Regions from separate parts of the Homo sapiens genome. Here regions 1 and 3 are each linked to region 2. Evidence: fine-mapped expression QTL. A gene starts in region 2. Each other region holds a variant in brackets. All regions are shown on one strand. Distances are between the middles of the regions. Region 1 has its middle 26 kb from the start of PCAT6. Region 2 holds the start of KDM5B (lysine demethylase 5B). Region 3 has its middle 47 kb from the start of GPR37L1.

Region 1 (8,178 bases), 29 kb after region 2:
CCCAGTGCTTTGGGAGGCTGAGGTGGGAGGATTGCTTGAGCCCGGAGTTCAAGACTAGCCTGGGTAACAGAGTGAGACCCCCCACCTCTACAAAACAAAAACAAAAACAAAACAGAATCATCATCAACAACAAAACAACAAAAAAACACTACGAGCCACTGTTTTGCTCTGTTCCGGGGAGGCTTTCTCGAGTTAACAGTTTTGCCTCAGGTTACCAAGTACTTGATTGGGTTACAACTTCCTGGAAATCATTTTTAGCTTCAGAAGCACTGGTCCCCTAAACGGATTCCTGGGACATACCCCTATCTCTGTCAGTAACACTAAGCCCCTTTGAGCGTGTATTACTCTGCAGATGGCCGAATCGATCTGTTGTTGATTCTATTAACTCCACTTTCAGAGGTTGGCATTTTCCTCGTACTGACCCACCCACCCTATTTGAGGCTTAACATTGTTTAGGACGAGCCAGCAGATGATTTACAATGAGTGTTATTATTCAAAAGAAAGTCCTATATTTGCTACAGACTGGGTGTGGTATCAAAGGTTGGAGGGGCCTGGAGTTTAGGGTGGAGTTCGGGCCAGGTCCTGGCCAAGCCCTCACATGCGGGCAATGTGAGTTCAAGTCATACACAACCAAGTGGGCATGCCATGTCCCCCAGATAGGCCTCCTTTTTGTGTGCTGGGTCGTGGGTTTCACCTTGAAGAAGGTGAATGGTGAGCATAGACAATGAGGGAAGTTATTATGGGGTTGGCAGGGGAAATGCAGTTAGGAAAGAAAGGAACATAGGTCACCACATAGTCCCAGGGGCTCTGGTGATAAGTTCTGAGAATGCCACCCTTCCTGGGCCCTCTTCTCCTTAAAGGTAACGCCAGGAAGGGAGGGGGTTTATTGCCTGACTGAGCCTTACTGGCCTCCCATCCCCCAAACCTTCTTCTCTGGGACATTCTTTTTTCCCTAAAGTGGAGGCCTTGCCTTCTGTTGAAGTGAGGGTTAGGGCAGGGGAAGACAAGAAAGTCAGCTTGATAAAACTTGCTGGCCAGGCATGGTGGCTCATGCCTGTAATCCCAGCACTTTGGGAGGCCGAGGTGGGTGGATCATCTGAGGTCAGGAGTTTGAGACCAGCCTGGCCAACATGGCGAAACCCCATCTCTACTAAAAATACCAAATAAATTAGCTGGGCATGGTGGTGGGCAACTGTAATCCCAGCTACTCGGGAGGCTGAGGCAGGAGAATCACTTGAACCCAGGAGGCGGAGGTTGCAGTGAGCTGAGATCACGCCATTACACACCAGCATGGGTGACAGGAGCAAAACTCTCTCTCAAAAAAAGCAAAAACAAAAACAAAAAAAAAACAAAAATAAAACACAACATGCCTTAATTTTCCTTGGGGGAAGTGAACTCTACAAGGAGATCAGCCTTGGTTACCAGAAAGCAAGATGCTTCTCTGAGCATAAATGCTGCTGTTGTCCTCCTCCAACTCCTTGCTTGGATTTTTTGGGACAGGTGAGATGCGGAGGTTAAGGGGCCTTGGGCTTGGGTCTGATTTCTGGTTCACTCTAGGCCCTGGTCTCTTCATAAACACTTTCCTCCAAATCTTCATTCCATGCCCTGCCAACCTCATTCTGGCCTCTCACAAGCTGGACACCGTCTTACAAAAAGCTCAAGGAATTAAGATTCTGTTTTTGGGAAAGAGGAAAGGTGACATCCTCAAGTTAAGGAAATGTTGCTTAAGAGGATTTTTGGAGAGTTGAATAAAAGTGAAGGGGCTTTCTAACAAGGAGGTTAAAACCATGGCTTTTGGAGTCTGAAAGGGTTCAAAGTTTACCTGTCATTTACTAGCTGAGTGACTTTGGGAAGTTACTTTAACTTCTGGACCCCATTTTCTCATCTGGTAAAATGGGGTTACGAATACAGGCTCTGAGGATTAAGAGGTGAGAAGTACAATGAATACTTAGAACATTGCTTGGTACTTAGCACTGAAAAATGCTAGCCATCGCTAGTTTTACCAAAGAAAAAAGGAGAAAAGATGATGTGGTTCCTGGCAGGTGTTCGGTGGCTCCCTGACACCCACATTCTCCGCACCCTGCCCGGAACCTCCTCCCTCCTTGTCTGCATTAGTAATCCCTGCCTCCTCTGCAGGAGCCAGCTCAGCGGCCCCTCCTCTGAGCTCCCAGGGCACCTTGAGTTGGATTTGTCTGGACATTGGGTTCCTGTTTTACCTCCAAATCCACTGCTAGAGCTCAGTGGATGTTTGTTGAATTAGTGAATAATCCCTTGCTTTTGTATGTCACTTCAGTTCATAAAGCTCATAGGAATACATTATCTGATTTAATCTTCAGAAGCACACTGCAGGGAAGATCCTGTTTTATGGATTAAAAATATACATATATGAGAGACCGGTTACCTGGAGTCTGCATGGTTCATGCAGATTGCGACAACCTAGACCCTGCCTGAGGTACAGCTCCTGGGTCACCTCATGCAACCAAAGGTGGGCGTCTCGGGGAGGTTCCCACCAGCGCAGGGAGGTGGCTTCTGAGCAACCTCACTAAAGTCTCCACCAAATTGCCAGCAGGGCCCAGGCCTTTCCCTGACTGTCCCAGCTCTCTCAATGCAATGAATCTGGGAAACCCAAACATCCTGCCCCTCTTACCCCATCAGACCTGCCCTTCCAGGGATATGGCTTTCCCTCACCCAGGGAAAAGGCTGAGGGGGCCTCAGGCTGCTGTGGGGGACATGGGTGTCCTCCTTTCTTGGTGACCAGCAATTTGACTTTGGCCAGTGTGAAGAGTGGGGCTCTGATGGGGGTGTGGGAGGAGGAAATGAAGTGGGAGCACAGCCCGCCCCCATCCTCTTTGCAGCCTCTGGGGTTCCCCTCAGGTCTGTCTGGCAGCTGTCTTCCCCACTGACCTCTTTTCCTCCCTCTGTGCTGGCCACATCCTTCCTTTATCAAAAGCAGCTGCTTTGGGTTCTCCTGAATTGCCTTTTAGGTGAAAGGCATTTGTGTTTCTTGGTAGCTGGTTCCTGCTGAGTAAGGCGGGACAGGCTCTGGCTTCCCAGGTGAGACTGGAGAGGCCAAGGCAATCCTTCACTCCTGGAGAGCTGGGGAGGAGCCCACACCACTGGGGCAATTGAGACCCCGTCCCCTCCCCTCCCCTCCCCTCCACTCCACTCCACTCCCTTCCCCTCTCTCCATCTCCAGGACCCAGCAGCAACCCTTTTTACTCCAGGTTTCTCATTCATCCAAACATTTACTGAGCTCCTGAGTGCTAAGCACCTGAGAGGAGGGTCTCAGTGTCAGTGTCACCTCCTCCACGAAGCTTTGGAGCTCTCCCTGGGAATAAGTAAGCTCTTCTCTGGTTATTATAGTTCAAAGGAAGGTGCACAGACGGTGGTGCCACTCAAACTTGGGTTTTAATTCCAGCGCTATTTACTAGCTGAGAGATTTTATGTTATTTAACCTCTCTGAGCCAGTCTCTCCACCTATGAAACAGGGATTCCAGCTAGCACACAGGGTTGGCACTGGGGCTAAAGGGAGTTCTCCATGTAAGGCAAATGAGAGACACTTGGAGGGCATCAGCTCAACTCTCCCTCTCCAGGAGATGGAGGTGCCTAGCCTTCAGCATTTGTCAAGCCTGGCACCCTCTTTCACCCCATCACATCCTTCCATGGGGGACCACAGGCTTCAGCCCATTCCAAGGGCCTCTGTTGCTCCTGCTGACGTATCCCTAGGGGCTCCAGGGCAATTGCACACTCAGCCCTGGTCTTTGGGCTGCCCCCTCACCAGGTCTGGGCTCCTTCTTTGTTAGGAAGCTTCAGACAGGCTCAGGCAGGCAGGACATTTCCACTGTTGCCAGCCCTGCCCCAGGTAGGTGGGGAGGAGCAGATTTCTCCCACCCAGTGGCCTCAGGGCATAGTTCTCCCTTTTCTGGTTAGGCTACTTTAGGAGCCCTGTGCATGCAAGGAGCAATATTGTTATCCATGAGGGCTAAGAAATGGGGCAGAGAGACCATCCAGGCTCTCTGGGTCCCCTACAGGCATCATCACTTCCCTTGGGTGTGGTGGTGTCTCTCTGGTAGGAGAAAGAGCAAGAGGTGGGGCAGAGGTGTGGTCTGGATATGTAATTTCAGACATCTGACCTTCAATTGGAATAAGGATTCCAACTGTCTTTATCTGTAAAACGGAGGTAATATCTTCACAAGGTTACTGTGGCAATCAAATGAGACTAATGTGTGGGAGGGTTCAGAACTGTAAGGCAAGAAATCCATCACAGGACATTGCCCAATTTAAAGTCCTTCCATGGCTTCCCCATAGCTTTTGGGGTACAAACATGTTTACCACAGCCTCCACCCAGCTCACTAACCTCATCTCCCACCATCTGACCCACATGGTTCTTGAAGCTGAGCTCATGCCTGCTCTGGGTCTCCTGCATGCGCTACTTCC[T/C]GGTCCGGACTTCCTCCATCTAACCAACTACTCATCATCAGCTTTTTAATCTTTCTCAGAGAAGCCTTCCCCGACTCTTCACACAAGGCCAGGGCTGCTTGTTACTTGCCCTCTTCGGACCTTCATTTTTGCACACTTACAACGAGTTGTGTGACTGTCCAAGGTCTGCATCCGCCCACCTCTGTTCCCTGAATGTGGGCTTCCTGAGGATAGGTACTGAGCAGCATGCCGACAGTATCTCCAGGCTTTGCAGGGCATTTAGCACACGGTAGACATTTTATTTGTTGAAAGAAAAAAGCAGCCGGGCGCGGTGGCTCATGCCTGTAATCCCAGAACTTTGGGAGGTTGAGGTGGGTGGATCATGAGGTCAGGAGTTTGAGACCAGCCTGACCAACATGGTGAAACCCCATCTCTACTAAAAATACAAAAATTGGCGGGCATGGTGGGGCACGCCTGTAATCCCAGCTACTCAGGAGCCTGAGGCAGGGGAATAGCTTGAACCCGGAAGACAGAGGTTACAGTGAGCAGAGATCATGCCACTGCACTCCAGACTGGGGGACAGAGCGAGACTCTGTCTCAAAAAAAAGGAAAAAAAAGAAAAGAAAAAGGCTACTGATTCAGAGGCAGCTCCGCCCCCAGGCCCCCAGGCTCTTCATCCACTCTCCTTAGCCTGAAATTTGTGGCATTCACAGTCCTCCCCAACTCCACTAGACTCAGCAACTGCTCTTAGTCCAGCAGAGGAATCAGGAGCTGACTTTCCTCCTTGCTCCTCCCTATCAAAACTCAAAATTCTGGTCACTTGCAACTTCCTTCTTGACTCCCTTTCATGAGACCAGAGAACGCATGGCCTGTTTACCATGTCACCTCAGTTTCTAGTTTGGGGCTGTTGTGTAGATGGATCACTTGCCTATTAGTAAACCTCCTGAGGATGGCTCCCATCCCTCCCTGTTAGGCAAAGAGCAGAGCCTCTCGAATCCAAAGGCTTGAGCACAGGTCCAAGTCCAGCACTGTCCCAGTTGTTAAGGCTTTGGACAGATCAATTACTGAACCAGTTTCCTCATCAGTAAAATAGAATACCATTTCACAGAAGGGTGGAAATCAGGAGGTACACAAATTACGGTGTTCGACACTGCTAAGCACTCTATCTGTGCAGCGCAATGTGATAGACTCTACTTCATTTTCCATGTAGGGTAACTGAGGCATGGAGGGGTTACACAGGCGGCTCGCTCACACCACCATTAAAGTAGTCTGAACTCAGGCAAGCTCCCCCAGGAGACCCAAGCCCTTTCCTAACTGCCAGACTTGCTCTGTTCCCTTAAAGTCAGGGGCAGAAAAGGTGCTCAGCAGTTTCAGGTTATTTTGATTCAAATTTGGCTGGGTGTGGTGGCTCACGCCTGTAATCCCAGCACTTTGGGAGGCAGAGGTGGGTGGATCACAAGGTCAGGAGATTGAGACCATCCTGGCTAACAAGGTGAAACCCCGCCTCTGCTAAAAATACAAAAAATTAGCCAGGCGTGGTGGCGGGCGCCTGTAGTCCCGGCTACTCAGGAGGCTGAGGCAGGAGAATGGCGTGAACCCGGGAGGCGGAGCTTGCAGTGAGCCAAGATCGCGCCACTGCACTCCAGCCTGGGCGACAGAGCGAGACTCCGTCTCAAAAACAAACAAACAAACAAACAAACAAAAAAACAAATTCACCAAGGCAGCTAGGGAGGTTTGTTTCCTGGAGCTCACTTGGAGCTTGTAGAAGTACGTGCTGATGTCACAAACAGGGATGTAGAAACTTTAGAGATTCCCCTTCTCCCTCCTGTATTAACAAGTGAACTAGCTGGGCGTGGTGGCTCATGCCTGTAATCCCAGCACTTTGGGAGGCCGAGGCAGGCGGGTCACAAGGTCAGGAGTTCAAGACCACCCTGGCCAATATGGTGAAACCCCATCTCTACTAAAAATATAAAAATCAGCTGGGCGTGGCGGCGGGCACCTGTAATCTCAGCTACTTGGGAGGCTGAGGCAGGAGAATCACTTGAACCCGGGAGGTAGAGGTTGCAGTGAGCTGAGATCGTACCACTGCACTCCAGCCTGGGTAACAGAGTGAGACTCCTAAAAAATAATAATAATAAAATAAAATAAAACAAATGAACTCCCACCTTGTTCTTGCAAGGGAGGACAAGAAATTACAGTGTAATGATGAGACAAGAAGAAATTACTATGTTCAAAAGAGGTGAAGGAACTTGAGTCCCTAACACTATTTCACTATTACAAATTTTTTTTTTTTTTCTGAGACGGAGTCTCGCTCTGTCGCCCAGGCTGGAGTGCAGTGGCGCTATCTAGGCTCACTGCAAGCTCCGCCTCCCGGGTTCACGCCATTCTCCTGCCTCAGCCTCCGAGTAGCTGGGACTACAGGTGCCTGCCACCACGCCCAGCTATTTTTTGTATTTTTAGTAGAGACGGGGTTTCACTGTGTTAGCCAGGATGGTCTCAATCTCCTGACCTCATGATCCACCTGCCTCGGCCTCCCAAAGTGCAGGGATTACAGGTGTGAGCCACCGCACCCAGCCTGATTTCAAATTTCTTAACCTCGGCAAGTTAGCAATTTTTTTCTTTTTTTTTCTTTTGAGACATAGTTTCACTCTTGTCGCCCAGGCTGGAGTGCAGTGGCCCAATCTTGGCTCATTGCAACCTCCACCTCCCGGGTTCAAGCTACTCTCCTGCCTCAGCCTCCCAAGTAGCTAGGATTACAGGCATGTGCCACCACGCCCAGCTAATTTTCTATTTTTAGTAGAGACGGGGTTTTGCCACATTGGCCAGGCTGGTTTCGAATTCCTGACCTCTGATAATCTGCCTGCCTTGGCCTCCCAGAGTGCTGGGATTACAGGTGTGAGCCACTGTGCCTGGTCATTTCTTCATTTTTTAAAGCTATATTTTGTTTGGGCTATGAATGTCAGAATGAGGAACCTTTTTTTTTTTTTTTTTTGAGACGGAGTTTCGTTCTTGTTGCCCAGGCTGGAGTGCAACGGCATGATCTCGGCTCACTGCAACCTCGGCCTCCCGGGTTCAAGCGATTCTCTTGCCTCAGCCTCCCGAGTAGCCGGGATTACAGGCATGTGCCACCACGTCCGGCTATTTTGGTATTTTCAGTAGAGATGGGGTTTCTCCGTGTTGGTCAGGCTGGCCTCGAACTCCTGACCTCAGGTAATCCACCCGCCTCGGCTTCCCAAAGTGCTGGGATTATAGGCATGAGCCACTGTGCCCGGCCGAGCAAACTTTTTTAAAGCTATATTTTGTTTGGGCCATGAATGTCAGATCGAGGAACCTTTCTTAAAACATGCACCAACACAGTTTTACTGCATTCTTGTTTCCTTAAATGTCTGAGGCTCCTAGGGCAGTGGTTCTCAACTCTGGCCGCACATTCGCCTCACGTAGGAAGATTTTTACTTACTTATTTATTAATTAATTTTTTTTTTTGAGACAGAGTCTCGCTCTGTCACCCAGGCTGGAGGGCAATGGTCTGATCACTGATCACTGCAGCCTCAACTTCCCAGGCTCAAGCGATCCTCCCGCCTCAGCCTCTTGAGTACCTAGGACTACAGGTAAGCATCACTATGCCCAGCTAATTTCTTATATTTTGTGTAGAGATGGTATCTCACTATGTGGCCCAGGCTGGTCTCAAACTCCTGGGCCCAAGTGATTCTCTCCCGCCTTGGCCTCTCAGTGTTGGGATTACAGGTGTGAGCAACTGCACCA
Region 2 (8,157 bases):
CAACCTCCTACCAGGTTTTTCTCCTGGGCATTATAGTCCTAAATTTGTCTTAAAAGGTAGTTAGGGGTCGGGGGAGGGGGGAGGGAAAGCATTAGGAGATATACCTAATGTAAATGATGAGTTAATGGGTGCAGCACACCAACATGGCACATGTGTACATATGTAACAAACCTGCACGTTGTACACATGTACCCTAGAACTTAAAGTATAATTTAAAAAAAGGAAAAAAAAAGTAGTTACAAGTGAGTTCAGGGTTTCTTTTGAGGGAGATGAAAATGTTCTACAATTGATTGTGGTGATGGTTGTACAACTCTGAAAATATCAAAAACCACTGAATTACACATCATAAATTCGTGAATTGTATGGTATATTTCAATAAAAGGGTTTTTTTTTTAAGTAGTTATAAGTTCTTCCTTTGCTCAAGGATGTTTCTACTGATAAGCCTCTTCTCTAAACGTTAAAGGCTTAAAGTGGCCAAAGATACAAGTAGGGAAAGATTTCATGACACCAAAGAAATAGGGAAAACAGAGAGAGGGTTAGGCCTAAGTCGATCAAACCCCAAATTAGGGAGAATGATACGCTGGAAAGGGAGTAAATGAGCTCCATATCATTAACACTTCTACCATACAAAGAAGTGTATAAGTTCCTCCCTCTTCTCTAGGAGTGGAACCAACAGGCTCACTCAAAAATGGTGACTGTATTAAAACATTTAAGGGCAGTTTTACACTTGGCTATAAAGATGAAGGAATCAAACTAGTAACCACAAGAAGTTAAAGCTGAAAAATTTTTGTCTCTTGTGGCCTCTGGGGTTTGATTTAAACCTTCTCCGGACACAAAGAAGAAATCTGTGGAATCTAGGCCCGGCACGGTGGCTCACGCCTGTAATCCCAGCACTTTGGGAGGCCGAGGCGCATGGATCACCTGAGGTCGGGAGGCAGAGGTTGTGATGAGCCACTGCACTCCAGGCCTGGGCAACAAGAGCAAAATTCCGTCTCAAAAAAAAAAAAAAAAAGAAATTTGTGGAATCTATCTATGGCCAAATGTGAGACATTTGAAAGCAAGAAAATAAGTTACTAAAGCCATAAATATATTCCTATCAAAATTTGGGAGACAAAAAAGTATTTACTGAGCAGCCAACTATTTTTCTGCCTAATAGTTACACCCTTAAAATTACTCATCTCCAAATACCACAAAGTGATATGGAAAAATATCATTTGTCCTTAAACAGACATCTAAGTACAGTATCATGGAGGAAATTAAAAATTTGCATTTTAAAGGTGACAAAACCAGAAGCCAGATGAATTGTAAATTTAAGAAGGTTTTGGTCCAGAAAACAAGCCTGGTTATCCTACATAGTTGATATAATTTGAAACAAAGGTTTGTATTAAACTTCAAACTCAGATTTGAAGTATAGTCTTCTTGACTTAATCACGTTTTCTCACATTTATCTTACTATATTTTCAAATTTCTGAGAACCCCTAAGCTGCCATATACAAAATAATGTAAGTACTCTAAGTTTTCAGAAGCCAAGCAGTTTGGGAGTCTCACTGAGAAAGCAGCTATAAACTGAAACTATATTAAGTACCATTGGTAAAGATACAAAGGTAAGAACAAAAGGAGACAGAAATGTTTTATACTTCTCCTTACCTTCTAACAAGTAAAATACCAATAGTTCCAATTCCCCTTCTAATATAACCATTTGTGTTCCAAAAACTCGGTGAACAAAAATCATCCAGAAATACAGACATTATATATATCACCATGGAAAATATTTCACACTTCTTGAAGGGTTTTTTTGTTGCTATATATCAACTATATGAAACCACTTGTTCACAGTTAGCTTTCCCAAAAACAAAACAGTTTCTAAAACAAAGACTGTTTACATCTCTTAAGAAGCCTTTGTTCCAACAAGACCCCTCTTCAAGAGCTACAACTTCTGGAAAGATTTCCCTTTTTGTGGTTATATCAACAACAAATACTCTCAAACTCTTTCCATTTGGCAAAGGAGTTTGTTAAACAAAGGAGGAAGCAAGTCCCCTCCACACAAAGGAGGTCTCCAAACAGAGTACTGGTTGTATTTGTAGATTATTGGTGCCTCTTTAACCCCTTTCCTCAGGCTGTACTATGTAGCACTCTCAATACAAAATGGTGGCCATCATGTCTGTCTGACATTCAGAGTGAGAAAAAGGCAATTCGATCACACATTTTGCAAAGATTACCATTAATATTCTAGCCAAGATGAGGAAATGGGTAGCCAAGCCTAACCAGAGCAACACTATCTTTTCAGAAAAAGGGCCCTCTAAAAGGCAAAGAACAAGAAAACAAGATAAAGGATTTACCCCAGCCCTGGTATACCACAATACCAACATGGAGGACACCTCCCAGGAACCTGACTCCCCACGTTTTGGTTACTAAGAACTTAGTCAAGTTACCCAATTTCTGAATAAAATCCCATTATGCAAATGTGCAATATTCATATTCACCCTTCCTAGCATGTGACATGAAGCTACATTACTACAGTGTGAAACATGACCTATTATTCAAGAATTAAAACCTTGGCTCTAACCAGCCCTGTTATAACTTCTGCAGGCCTCTTTGCACTAAGAGAAACGTACTTCCCTTAAGCAGCAAGAATCAACCTTGCCCACTTCGCTGTAAGAAATGGATCTATTTTCAAACATTTCCCTCATATTCGCTGGCCAGTTATTTTCTGAAGCATGTATTTCATCTCCATTTTCAAACTTGCTTAAGAAAAACTAAAGTAGGTGTCCGTGTTTTAATTTGGGGCAGGGAAGGGTTAAGAAGCCTTATTTTCAGGGATCTCCCTGAAAACAGCTTTCCAAAACATAACGATTACAAACAGAATCCCTACAACTCAAAATGTCATTACAAAAAGCAAGCTTAAGGGAGAAAGGGGTGGGAAGGGGTCTTCCTCTACTTAGAAGTGGGGGTGGGGGAAGAGAGTGGGGAGAAGATTCTTAAACAGCAGGAAAGGCAGTTAAACCCGCTTCCCAACGGTCCCAGCCCGTCCAACCGCCGCTTAGGCCAACTCGGACTCAGACCCTCCCGAAAGGTGGGCAAAAAAAACAGGGGTGTAGGAGCGCACCCAGTTCCGGCCACGGAGGAAGGAGTTGGCCGGGCTCTCCTCAGCGAACGTTGGAGCCGTTACGGATGGTTTCAGCAACACCCACCCCTCACTCACTGCCCCCAGGCCCGAGGCGCTGTAGACAGGGCTGGAAGGGCTGCGGTGGGTGACTGCCTTTCAGTGCCCGGAGCCTGAGGGCCGGGGGAAACGAGCACGAAATCTTCGGAGGTCTCTCCGTCTGACGTTCCCCTACAAACACGGCCTCGCCCGGACCCCATCCCCACCAGCACAGCCCAGGCCTCCCCGGGGAGCCGAGCGGCTGAGCCAGAAGAAGCCGGGAGTGTGCGCGTTCGGGAGCGCGGGCGGGCATCGGGGCCCACCGCCGCCCGTCCTGCCCCCGCCGCCCCAAAAGTGTCCCCCAGACACTAACGCCCCCCACAAACATCCGCTCCGGGGCTGGACCCGCGGCTCCTCCCCGCCCCCAGCCAGCGCTGGCCGCCCCCTTCTTGACCCCGGCCCGGGGGACACCTGGAGGCCCGGGGACCAGGCGGTGGAGGGGTGCCCTGGTCTGGAGGGTGGGGCGCCCAGGTGAGGGCCGCTCCGGGCCGACGCCGCCACCACACAAAGGACCAGGGGCTCCCGCCGCCATATTGAAAACTTTCCTCCTCGCACGACAACTCGCAAGTCCCCCACCCCCACCCCACCCCATCACACACCCCCGCACCCCGGGAGCGGAGGCGAGGACCAGCCTGCCGAGCCTCGCCGGGCCCACAGTCCTCCCTCCAGCCCGCGCCTCCGCCAGGCTCCGTGAGGAAACTCCCCCGCGACCACCCCCGGCTCCTGCCATCACTCCATCCGGAACCGAACCCGAACCTCCGCACCCGGCCGCCCGAGCCCCGCGGCGACCCGGCCCTCCCATGGCACCGCCGAAGCCCCCGGTTCTCCCACGCTCCTCATCTCCCACCCTGGAGAAGCCCCCGTCTTCCTCCCCCGGCCTCAACTCCGACCTTCTAGGCAGCCCCAAACTTGACGAGGCCGGCGGGGCGACCGGCTCCCCGCCCCCCGCGCCTCGGGCCTCCCCGGACCCGCGCGTCCCCGCTCCCTCCCCCAGCCACGAGCTGGATCCGGGGTGCTGGCGTGACTCACCGGCGGCGGCCGCACCTTACAGATGCCAGTCTGCTCGGCTATGGGCCGGATCTTGTGGATGAAAGCGAAGGGGTCCGCGAACTCTTCCCAGCTGGGTTCGAAGACCGGGCACTCGGGTGGAGGCAGGAACTCGCCCAGCGGGCCCGGGCCCCCGAGGGGCAGCGCCGGGCGCGGGCCTGGGTGCAGTGTGGTGGCCGCCTCCATCACCGCAGGCTGGGCAAGGGCGAGGCGAAGGTGGGCTCCGGGACCGAGGCTGCGAGCTCCGCTCGGTCCGAGACCCGTGCAGACGCGGCTCGAGCAACAGCAAGTCCGAGTTGTACGGGCAACGGCAGCACCTTGGGCTTTTTCAGCCTCCGACGACGACGTCTCGCCGCAAGCCCACGCCGTGCGCCTCCGCCGCCACGGCGAGGAAAAAGAGTCCCACCCCACCCCCATCGACCCACCCTCCGCGCGCGGCTCCCCGCCCCGCCCCCGAATCGGGCGGGGCCGCGCCTTCCGCTGTGGATGGAGTTTATCCTTAGGGTTTCAGTTGAGCCAACTTTTATTGACCATTTACTATGTATCAGAGTTCCTGCCCTGAAGAAGTTAAGTCTGGTAGAAAGGATCAGTCCCATAAGCCAATCATTCAATCACGTCAGTACACAATGGTAGGTGCAGTAAAACCCAGGAGGGGGTTTTGGAAAGAGTATTGGAAACGGAGAAGGATTTTCCAGTAGAGATAACAGCTTGAACATACACATAGCATGTTCATGAGAAGGCAATAGTAGTAATAATAATAATAACGTAACATTTTGGGGCACTTTCATATCCTAGGCACTGTTCTAATTGCATCGCATGATTAATCACACAACCCTATGAGATAGGTACTCTTATTTCCACTTTACAATAAGGAAAGTGAGGCATAGGTAGGTTAAGCAATTTGCCATAATTCACATGGCTAATAAGTGATGGAGACTATTGGGAGGTGGAGATGTTGCAGGGAAAATAATCATCCACAAACAGTCTATGACGAGGTCAGACTTGAGAGGGGCGAAAGACTTGAAATAATCCAGACAAGGAATGATAGGATCTAAATTAAGGCAGTGGTGCTGATAATTATGAGGAAGGGATGCAAAGGTAGGAAATAAAATTAGGACATAGTGACAGATTGAGGGGGGACGACGAGGTATTAAGATTCAGATGTCTGGCGTACCTGCCTGAGTAGATGCTAGCCCGTTGGCATTGCTGGAACATTCACCCCAATTATATACAGAAGGCGAGTTACTCAAGGGAAGAAGATACTGTGTTCATTTCTGGACATTTTGAATTTGAGGTGTCTCTGGTACATACAGGTAGAAATACACAACGGGGTATCCTTCAACAGACTGAAGGGTATAAATCTGAAGGGGCGAGATCAGAATTGGAGATATAAATCTGGGAGTTATGTGCTTATGGGTGATAGCCGCTATTTAATGCTACTGTGTGTAAAGCACTGCTCTAAACGCTCTGCATGTATTAGCTCACTGAGTCTTCACAACCACCATATTGAGTAGGTACGATATTATCCTCATTTTGCAGAGCAGGCAACGGAGGCAAAGAGGTTAACGAACTTTAAGAGATACGAACACTTTTGAGGCGCCTTTTTTCTTTTGGCGGGAGACGGGGGACGGGGGTGGGGGGGTAGTGTCCAGCAGCCTCAGAAAAAAGGAGGAAGCTCAAAAAGTAGAACGTCAACATTGAAATGACCTCTTTCATCCAGAAAGCTGCCAAACGTATGCAAGGAATGTTTGTCAAGATCTTAGTTCGCTTTCAGATTCACCTAGTGGAAGGAAATCTCTTATGCTTAAGAAGTCTTCAATTAAAAGGGGGGATGGGCGTGGGGGGAGAAGAAAACCGCCTTCCCTTCAACAAATTTTTCCCAGAGGTACCGGGCCCAGGAAAGAGTTCACAGTGGTCCTGGGAGAACGTATTCCTTTTCTTAGCTCTCCAGGGCTTTGGGACCTGGAGTCTTTTCCTGCTCCCTACTGCAATGGAGAGTCAAGCCCAGGGGACAGCTAATACACTATTAAAAGAATTATCAGTGCAAGATAGATATGCGATGTGGCAAGTTATAATAGAATCTAGGTAGTGGGTATAGAGGAATTTGATGCAAATTTCTTTTAACTTTACTGAATATTTAATAATACTAAATAAAAGTTGGGTAGAAGAATTATCGTCGATGGCTCTTTGGTGCGCATTCTGGGCCTCCGAGGGTCTTGATGAAGCTCATGTAGTGTCATGTGCTCTCTCGGGAGAGCGTTGACTATTTTCACTCCTAACGTTGGCATCCTACGAGCCAGGTAGGCATAACTTTGAGACAAATTCTAGACTTACATGAGTTATGATTATTATTTAACTGAGATGGACAGGAAGAACAAGCCTAAGAAAATCTTTCCCAATTCTCAGCTGCGTCCTACGATTCCCTCTCGCTCCCAACTCTCAAGGTCTCCCAGTCCGGCTTCCTCCATTTCCGGTAGTGACCCTAAGTGATGAGATTCTATCGCTCCCAGATCAGGCCGCAGCTGTTTGGCTCCCAGCAGACCCGGTGTGACGTTAAGGGACGGGGCGGTTGCCGGCGTCTTGAGGGGAACCTAGGGACCGAGAGGACTCTCCGGGAAGGCAGCCGCTCCCCCGCCCACAACAGACGCTCCCCTTGCCCTTTATGATGTTTACATGGGCGGAGGGATCCCTCCCAGCTGACAGCCACACCGCGCCGGCCCTTCTTTTTTTAAAGAGCCTAGCCACGGGCGCTGACTGGCCGGCAGCCGGGCGCGTCATCCTCCGGGGGCGGGGCCCGGGCCGCATTGTCTCGTCTAGGGCCGGCTGGACGCCCCAGAGGCCGGACCTGGGCAACCCCAGCCTGGAGGTGCCGGGGCCGGAGCTCCCAGAGGGCTGGGTGCGAGGCCTAGGCGGGGTCAGGTTCGGGTTCCTAGGCCATAGCGGAGCTGCAGCCCAGGCGGCCGGAGCGGAACCCAGCCCCGCTCCGAGTGCCACGTCTCCAGGAACCCCCTCCTTACTCTTGGACAACACTCCGCCCCCGCCCGGGCCTCCGTCCCCCAAACCGCCCTCATTTGTGCAGCGCCAGATCCTTCGGACACATCCCTAGGTGTCTCCATCCTCATTCGGTCCATCCAACTCCCAGACCTCACGTCAACCGGCTGCACCCCACTTTCCAGCCTGCGCCCCAGATCTGCAGCCTTCGCCCCTAGATACACCCGCCTGGTGATGAGGCGCTCCTCGCGTTCCTTCCGGTAACCGCGTTGCGAAGACCACGCTGCCGGGTTGCAAACTTGGGGGGACTTCCTCCCTCCCCTCCCCCTGGGCGCCGTGCAACTGCCCTGGGACCGGGTTCTGGGATGAGGGGGGCAGACCGGGCTCCCCAGCGGCCGGCGCAGCACGTAGCGCACGTGTAGGGTCCGCTCCCCACCCCCTCGCCGCCTCTGACAACTTTTCAGGGCTCCAGGTGTCCGTGAGCCTCCCTTCCGCCCTGGCCTCCGGTCTCTGCCTTGCTCGTGCTTCTACCACCACCCTTCCCCTCCCAACCCGGTGGATCCTCTCGTCTCCCCCAGTCTCCAGTGCACCGGCTTTCCCTCGTCCTCTGCGCAGTCCATCTCAGCTCATCTCTCCAATTCAATGCCATCATCTCTCCTCACCATCTCTCGGTGCCCTGGAATGTTTGCTGTCAGATGTCCCCTGTGAAACCCACAAACGCTTGCGATTTGGCCTCCTTGTTTTATTTTGTGTAGTCCTACAACGTCTTGTTACTACCCCCTATTACAACACTTATAACTCAGTATTTGTCTTTTTTCCGCGGTGTCCCTGCACTCTCCCCATACATATTCCTCTCCTGCCAGATTGTAAGCCTCTAGAGGGAAGAAGTAATGTCTCTCTCCTTGGCACCAGGCACG
Region 3 (8,178 bases), 730 kb before region 2:
GGCAGAGGTTGCAGTGAGCCGAGATCGCGCCATTGCACTCCAGCCTGGGTGACGAGAGTGAAACTCCGTCTCAAAAAAAAAAAAAAAAAAGAACGATGAGGCCCAGGGAATGCCATATATGCTAGGCGGCCAGTCTGGGTTCTTAATGACATTTTTGCCCTTCACGTCTAAGGCCTCTCAATCCCTAACTGGAGAGCAACCCCAGGAAATTCACAGCATGTTTGTGGGGAGAGCCAGTTAGCTGAGGAAGGAGAACCCTTGAGCGGTGTGGGGAGAAGTGGCCACCCAGCCTTGGCCAGAAGAGCTGCAGCAGAACCCAGATGCTGGGCGGGCCGGTGCCGGACCTTGACGGTTGGCTCTGCCACGCCAATACACACAGGCACTCCCAGGCAGCCTCAAGGTCCCTCCTGATTCTGTCGCTACCCTGGCCAGCCTTCCTTTTCTTATTACTCATTCTATTCTACACATTTTTTAAAATGTTATCTTCACTTTGGACCTTCTTATTCTTTGGCCACACCTAGGGCATCTTATCTCTCTAAGAGCAAGGTCTCTGAGGCACTAAACGGCTGGCTTTAGGATTCTGGGAGTGAGAAAACTGTGGGTGAGGCCAGAATAACAAAGTTGGCATTTATTTGACATTTGCCAAACTCTTGCCATGAATTATCTGATTGCATTCTTCCACTTCCCTAATGGAATATGGACACCAAATGGAAACCTGAGGCTCAAGGGGTGTGCTAGGTCATCATCAAATGGTGCAGCCAGGATTTGGACCTGGACTTGTCTGAGGTACCTGGATTAACTGCTGGGCTACAGAGCAGTGTGGTGAGGGAGATACAGGAGGTGCCTGGCCAGGCGCAGTGGCTCATGCCTGTTATCCCAGCACTTTGGGGGGACCAAAGTAGGTGGATCACCTGAGGTCAGGAGTTCGAGACCAGCCTGGCCAACACGGTGAAACCCCGTCTCTACTAAAAATACAAAAATTATCTGGGCATGGTGGCAGGCGCCTGTAATCCCAGCTGCTACTCAGGAGGCTGAGACAGGAGAATCACTTGAACCCGAGAGGTGGGGGCTGCAGTGAGCCGAGCTCACACCACTGCACTCCAGCCTGGGCGACAGAGCGAGACTCTGTCTCAAAAAAAAAAAAAAAAAAAAAAGAGGGCCATAGATGTACTAAGGTTTCTCAGAAGTGATTAGAGAAGCTTCAGATGGGTTTTACGCAGTCATTCAACAAGCATTTATTGAGTACCTACTGTGTGCCAGGCAGTGAGGACACAAAGATGAAAGAGTCCCAGCCCTCAAAGAGCTCGCCGTCTGAGTGGACATGTCAAGTAAACAGGCTATTGCCGAGCAACGTAAGTGCGATATTAGAGGTGTGTACTCCGCATGGAGGTAGAGGGAGTGATTACCTCTGCTGTGTGTAAAACACATATTGATTGAGAGCTTTACCATGGGCCAGGTGCTGTGCTGAGCGTTGAACAAGACACAGGACGGAGTGGGGAATGCTTTGCAGCAGTGACAGCCTGCACAGTGGCATGGAGGCATGGGTCACTGTGGTTACCTGGGCAAAGGGGGCTAGGCCTCATGCTGGACACTGGGGTGCAAACAAGGGCACAGCATTGGAGAATGAGGCTGGGCCCCATCTTGGAAGGCTTTGGAGGCCTGAGGAAGGGGCTTGGGTGTTACCTATACATGGAGGCCTTCCCAGCCTTTTGGAGGATGAAGACTTTTTCAAAAACAGTTAAAAACTTCTGATGAGCCGGGCGCAGTGACTCACGCCTGTAATCCCAGCACTTGGGAGGCTGAGGCAGGCAGATCACAAGGTCAAGAGATCGAGATCATCCTGGCTAACACGGTGAAATCCTGTCTCTACTAAAAACAACAAAAAATTAGCCGGGTGTGGTGGTGGACGCCTGTAGTCCCAGCTACTCGGGAGGCTGAGGCAGGAGAATGATGTGAACCCAGGAGGTGGAGCTTGCAGCGAGCTGAGATTGCACCACTGCACTCCAGCCTGGGCGACAGAGTGAGACTCCATCTCAAAAAAAAAAACAAAAAAAAACAACTGATGAGCTTCCACATGCTTGGAATTTGGCTTTTAGTGTCTTTTTTTTTTTTTTTTTTTTTTTGAAACAGAGTCTTGCTGTGTTGCCCAGGCTGGAGTGCAGTACCACGATCTCGGCTCACTGCAAACTCCGCCTCCCGGGTTCATGCCATTCTCCTGCCTCAGCCTCCCAAGTAGGTGGGACTACAGGCGCCTGCCACCACACCTGGCTAATTTTTTGTATTTTTAGTAGAGACGAGGTTTCACCGTGTTAGCCAGGATGGTCTCGATCTCCTGACCTCGTGATCTGCCCACCTTGGCCTCCCAAAGTGCTGGGATTACAGGCGTGAGACACTGTGCCTGGTCTAGTGCTTTTTTTTTTTTTTTTTTTTTTTTGAGACAGGGTCTTTCTTAGTTGCTCAGGCTGGAGTGCAGTGGCACAATGACAGCTCACTGCAGCCTCAACCTCCTGGGCTCAAGCAATCCTCCTACCTCAGCCTCCCAAGTAGTTGGGACTACAGGCACACACCACCACACCCAGCTAATTTTTAATTATTTTTAGAGACAGGGTTTCACTATGTGTTGCCCAGGCTGGTCTCGAACCACTGTCTTTTTTTTTTTTTGAGACAGTCTTACTCTGTCACCCAGGCTAGAAGTACAGTGGCACAATCTTGGCTCACTGCAACCTCTGCCTCCTGGACTCAAGCGATCCTACCACCTCAGCCTTCTGAATAGCTGGGACTGCAGGCATGCGCTACTGCGACTGGCTAAGTGTTGTATTTTTAGCAGAGACAGGGTTTTGCCATGTTGTCCAGGCTGGTCTTGAACTCCTGGTCCCAAGTAATCTGCCTGCCTTGGCCTCCCAAATTGCTGGGACTACAGGCGTGAACTACCGCACCTGGCCGAACCAGTGTCTTTATATTGAGAAAATACATGCGTACTGAGGACTCTCTCAAATGGTCAGTTTCTCTCCTGCACTGCTAACAGCTCCTCCTGCAAGTCTGTCCCTTCTGTCTGTGGCTCCTCCCCACTCATTATAGCCAGAGGGTCTTTCAAACATGCAAATCTGGTGCTGTCCACCCCCTACTTAAAGCTCCACCACAGCTTCCCTTTGTCCACAGGGTCAAGTCCAAGCTCCCCTCTCTGCCCTGTGCTCTGGCCTTTGTTTACTGATAAACTGCTCTGCACAGGTGTTGACATGCTGTTGCTAATGTCACTTCTGTATGTGCTTTTTTTCCTTATTGGCACCCCCTGCTTCAAGGGGGAATGAAGTCAGGAAGTGAGGGGTCTGGCCAGCTTCTAAAGATGCCTTAGGAAGCCTTCCCATGGCTCAGACTTACACACATCTCTATAGCTAACAGAGGGAGGGCACCGGTGGGAGGCAGCAGGCACAAGTCCTTCAGGGCATGTCATGCTGTGCCCGTTGTCCTGCCCTGGCTCCTGCCCCTACCCCAGGGTGTAGGGAGGGCCCTGGCTGTCCCTTGTCTATGGGGCCTGGGCCAGTGCACCACCTGGTATGAAGTGAGGCCAGGTGGATGTCAGCCTGTGGCCTCCTGGACTTTGCTGGAGCTCTGCGTCCTGCCGGGATGGTGAGGAGGCAGAACCCTGAGGGCCTGATCTGTCCTGCAGAGTGACTCAGTCTCCCTCTCACACATCTGGCTTCAAAGTTCTGAAGGTGACTTGGTCCTGGGTGGCTGAGGAGTGATTTCTTAGGTCAGAGTAGACCAAGGCACATAGGAGGGCCTACTTCTCTCCGGTAAACTTCTCTTCTGGCACTAAAGGGTGCTGCGGACTGGGATATTCTCAGAGGAGGCCTGACATCCGGGTCATGTTCTGGGGTCCCAGGGGTCCCATTTAAGGCTTTAACCTGTGGCTCAGGTGATAAGAGGAGACTCAGGACCAGTCCCTTAACAGGTTGGTGGAACTGTGAGTAGAAATTTTTTTTTGCTCCGCCCCTACCCAAAGTGGCTTCATTGAGATTCAGCCTATCTCCCACCCTTCCTGTGCTGTGATGAGGGACTCTGGGGACTGGGAGTGAATAGGCCCTGCTGAGTGCAGGGAAGACACACTCTGGCCTTCCTCACGCCAGGCTGGAGACCTGGCACTGGGCTCTGCTCCTAGCAGCCTGGAAAGCTGTTATTCTAGAACCTGATAACTGCTTGGGCTGGGCTGAAGATAAGAGGCAGCTGTTTGAAGTCCAGAGAGATAACAGCTTCAGAGAAATTTGATAAGAGGAGTGAGATGCACTGGGTTAAGCTCACCAGTCTCGCCTGTTTGCCTTTTGCCAGTTTATAATCATAACCAGCACTGTACTCTCAAGTCAGACTTCCCAGCACCGCGAGGAACCTCAGTGTCACTGTCTCTTAATGGTAGTCTGTGCATCTCTCCTGAGGTCCGCGCCTGGGCCTGCAGGCCTCTGTGCTTGTTCTATGAAATGACCCTCAGCCCCCAGCCCTGCCTTTCCAACCTCATTTCTTTCCTGCCCATTGGTTCTTTTTCTCAAATGTATTCACTCCTGCATCCATTCATTTAACAAATATTTTATGAGTGCCCACTTTGTGCCAGGCACCATTCTGGGCACCGGAGATGCACCGAGGATGCCACCAGGCATGGTCTCTACTCTCACTGGGCTGTGTTCTGGGTAGCCGGAGACAAAAGATAAATCAATAATTGTAGTGGGTGCTGAGTGCAATGGAGGAAAGTCTAAGAGGGCTGTGGTGGGGAGGGACTATGGGGACAGCACAGGGTGGCTTTAGAGTGGTCAGGATGACCTTCCTACAAATACCCTGGGGGATAAGAATGAGCCATGCCAAAACCTTCCTGGAGAGGAGAGAGCCAGCGCAAAGGTCCTGGGGCAGGAGTGAGCATGATCTGGGGGTTAAATAGAAGCTGGAGAGAAGAGGATGGTGGGCAGAGGCCTGATGAGGACAGTCAGACAGGCCTAGATAAGAAGTCTGGAGATGATGATATGCAGAAAACCAACCCACAGGAAGGTGAGTCAGAAGGAATCTGGTCTATGTTTTGAAAAATTTACTTTGGGCTGGGCGC[G/A]GTGGCTCACGCATGTAATCCCAGCACTCTGGGAGGCTGAGGCGGATGGGTCACAAGGTCAGGAGATCAAGACCATCCTGGCCAACATGGTGAAACCTCGTCTCTACTAAAAATACAGAAATTAGCCGGGCATGGTGGTGTGTACTTGTAATCCCAGCTACTTGGGAGACTGGGCAGGAGAATCGCTTGAACCCAGGAGGAGGAGGTTGCAGTGAGCCGAGACTGTGCCGCTGCACCCTAGCCTAGCGACAGAGCAGGACTCCATCTCAAAAAAAAAAAAAGAAAGAAAGAAGAAGAAAAACTCACTTTGGCTGCCATGTGGTAGCCAGGGCAGAGAGACAGGCATGGTGAGCAGGAGGGTCAGCATGGGAGGATGGATGCTGGCTCTGGTACTGACTCTCTGTTAGACCTTGGGCCAGACACTTAGCCTCTGTGCTTCTGTTTTCATAGCTATAAAACAGGGTTTCTCTTCACCTGTCTTCTGGTGCTGCCCTGGGTGCTGCCCCAGGTGAAGAATGCTGTGGTGAAGGAGACAGACCCTGCCCTTATGGGACTTCCACTCAAATGGAGGAGTCAGACCTCAAACCAGAGAATCCACAGGGAATGCCAAGTGCTATGTGAGAAATTAAAATAGGATGATTGCTAGAGGGTGACAGGGTGTGATTAGAGAAGCCCACTCCAAGGAAGTGACATTTAGCCTGAGACCCGAATGATGCTGGAAGGGCCCTTGAGGAAAGGAGCTGGAGGGATGGCCTGCTTTACTGGTCTGGAAAGGTCAGACAGGCTGTGGCCTGTGGGAAGTGCTCTGCAAATGTTTGGAGTTTTTTTGTTTTTGTTTTTTTGAGACAGAATTTCAATCTTGTTGCCCAGGCTGGAGTGCAGTGGCACGATCTCGGCCCTCCACCTCCTGGGTTCAAGCGATTCTCCTGCCTCAGCCTCCTGAGTAGCTGGGATTACAGGCACCCGCCACTACACCTGGCTAAGTTTTTGTATTTTTAGTACACATGGGGTTTCACCATGTTGGCCTGGCTGGTCTCGAACTCCAGACCTCAGGTGATCCATCTGCCTCGGCCTCCCAAAGTGCTGGGATTACAGGTGTGAGCCACCGCGCCCGGCCTGCTGCTGTTTATTTGAAGGGCCCCCATGCCCTGACCTGAAGCTGCCCACATCTGGACCTGCCTCATTCAGGGAATTCTGAAGTCTTCTGGATAGATCCTTAGCAAAGTCCTTCCATCGCCCCTCCCCCAACGCCCTGCCCCACCCTGCCAGTCACATACAGGCTTGTTCTGAAGCCTGTGAGGAAACTGTCCCTCTCAGCCCCACCTCCATGCCCAACCAGGCCGCCCCAGCACAGCCTGCCTGACTCCTGGAAACAGATGGAATCTTAGATCCAGTTTAATCCTTCCCATTTTCCATATGGGGAAACTAGGGCCATGTGTTTTATCTAATATTCCTTTTCATATAGTCTTTTTTTTTTTTTTTTTTTTGAGATAAGACTCCTGCTCTGTCACCCAGGCTGGAGTACAGTGGTGCGATCTCGGCTCACTGCAACCTCTGCCTTTCCAATTCAAGTGATTCTCCTGCCTCAGCCTCCCGAGTAGCTGGGATTACAGATGTGCACCACCACACCTGGCTAATTTTTGTATTTTTAGTAAAGATGACGTTTCACCATATTGGCCAGACTGGTCTCAAACTTCTGGCCGTATATGATCTGCCTGCTTTGGTCACCCAAAATGTTGGTTTTTGGGGTTTTTTTTGTTTTTTTTTTTTGAGATGGAGTCTCGCTCTGTCCCCCAGGCTGGAGTGCAGTGGCGCGATCTCAGCTCACTGCAAGCTCTGCCTCCCGGGTTCACACCATTCTCCCTGCCTCGGCCTCCCAAGTAGCTGGGACTACAAGCGCCCACCACCATGCCCGGCTAATTTTTTTTTGTATTTTTAGTAGAGGCAGGGTTTCACCATGTTAGCCAGGATGGTCTCGATCTCCTGACCTTGTGATCCACCCGTCTCAGTCTCCCAAAGTGCTGGGATTAGAGGCGTGAGCCACCGCGCCCAGCCAAAATGTTGGGATTATAGGCATAAACCACCATGCCTGGCCCCCTTTTCCTATATTCTTTCTTTCTTTTTTTTTGTTTGAGACAGAGTCCTGCTCTGTCACCCAGGCTGGAGTGCAGTGGCGCGATCTCAGCTCACTGCAACCTCCGCCTCCCAGGTTTAAGCAATTCTCTGCCTCAGCCTCCCGAGTAGCTGGGATTACAGGTGCATTCCACCATGCCTGGCTAATTTTTTGTATTTTTTTTTTTTTGAGACGGAGTCTCGCTCTGTCACCCAGGCTGGAGTGCAGTGGCACGATCTCGGCTCACTGCAAGCTCTGCCTCCCGGGTTCACGCCATTCTCCTGCCTCAGCTTCCCAAATAGCTGGGACTACTGGCACCCGCCACCATGCCCAGCTAATTTTTTTTTGTATTTTCAGTAGAGACGGGGTTTCACAGTGTTAGCCAGGATGGTCTCGATCTCCTGACCTCGTGATCCACTCACCTCAGCCTCCCAAAGTGCTGGGATTACAGGTGTGAGCCACCGCGCCCGGCCATTTTTTGTATTTTTAGTAGAGACAGGGTTTCACCATCTTGGTCAGGCTGGTCTTGAACTCCTGACCTCGTGATCCACCCACCTCGGCCTCCCAAAGTGCTGGGATTACAGGCATGAGCCACCACACCCGGCCTCCTATATTCTTTCAACAATAGTCATTGAAATATTTATTGAATTCCTACTGTGTGCTGTTTTAGGCACTGAGGATACAGCAGAGAACAAAACACAAAAATCTTGTCCTCCCAGCCTGGGAAACATGGTAAAGTCTTGTCTCTACAAAAAATACAAAAGTTAGCTAGGCGTGGTGGTGCCTGCCTGCAGTCCCAGCTACTCAGGAGGCTGAGGCAGGGGGATAACTTGAGCCTGGGAGGTTGAGGCTGCAATGAGCAAAGACCGTGTCACTGCACTCCAGCCTGGGTGACAGAGTGAAAACCTGTCTCCAAAAAAAAAAAAAAAAATTCTGTCCTCATGAGGCTAATATTCTACTTGGAGCAACTGACAATCAA

What was found. PIP is the estimated chance that this variant, and not a neighbour inherited with it, causes the effect.
Region 1: its variant is fine-mapped to the expression of KDM5B in whole blood (TOPMed, PIP above 0.99).
Region 3: its variant is fine-mapped to the expression of KDM5B in unexposed skin (GTEx, PIP 0.93).

What each region holds. Positions count from the first base shown.
Region 1 is chr1:202,832,841-202,841,018 of GRCh38, forward strand. No RefSeq gene overlaps it. Among named protein-coding and RNA genes, the nearest start is that of PCAT6, 26 kb to the left of the region's middle. RefSeq lists an enhancer at 5,908-6,456. The variant T/C (reference allele first, on the strand shown) is at 4,438.
Region 2 is chr1:202,803,871-202,812,027 of GRCh38, forward strand. It overlaps KDM5B (lysine demethylase 5B), which reads right to left and starts at 4,551. Exons shown (of 27, transcript NM_006618.5): 1 at 4,232-4,551. The coding sequence starts at 4,435. It overlaps LOC124904583, which reads right to left. Exons shown (of 3, transcript XM_047439549.1): 3 at 6,368-7,689. The coding sequence ends at 7,165. It overlaps PCAT6 (prostate cancer associated transcript 6), which reads left to right and starts at 7,084. Exons shown (of 2, transcript NR_046325.2): 1 at 7,084-7,500; 2 at 7,705-8,042. RefSeq lists silencers at 3,436-3,505, 3,606-3,725, 4,126-4,325, 4,356-4,565, 6,951-7,180.
Region 3 is chr1:202,072,037-202,080,214 of GRCh38, forward strand. No RefSeq gene overlaps it. Among named protein-coding and RNA genes, the nearest start is that of GPR37L1, 47 kb to the right of the region's middle. RefSeq lists enhancers at 81-580, 3,228-4,075 and a cis regulatory region at 3,947-4,386. The variant G/A (reference allele first, on the strand shown) is at 5,087.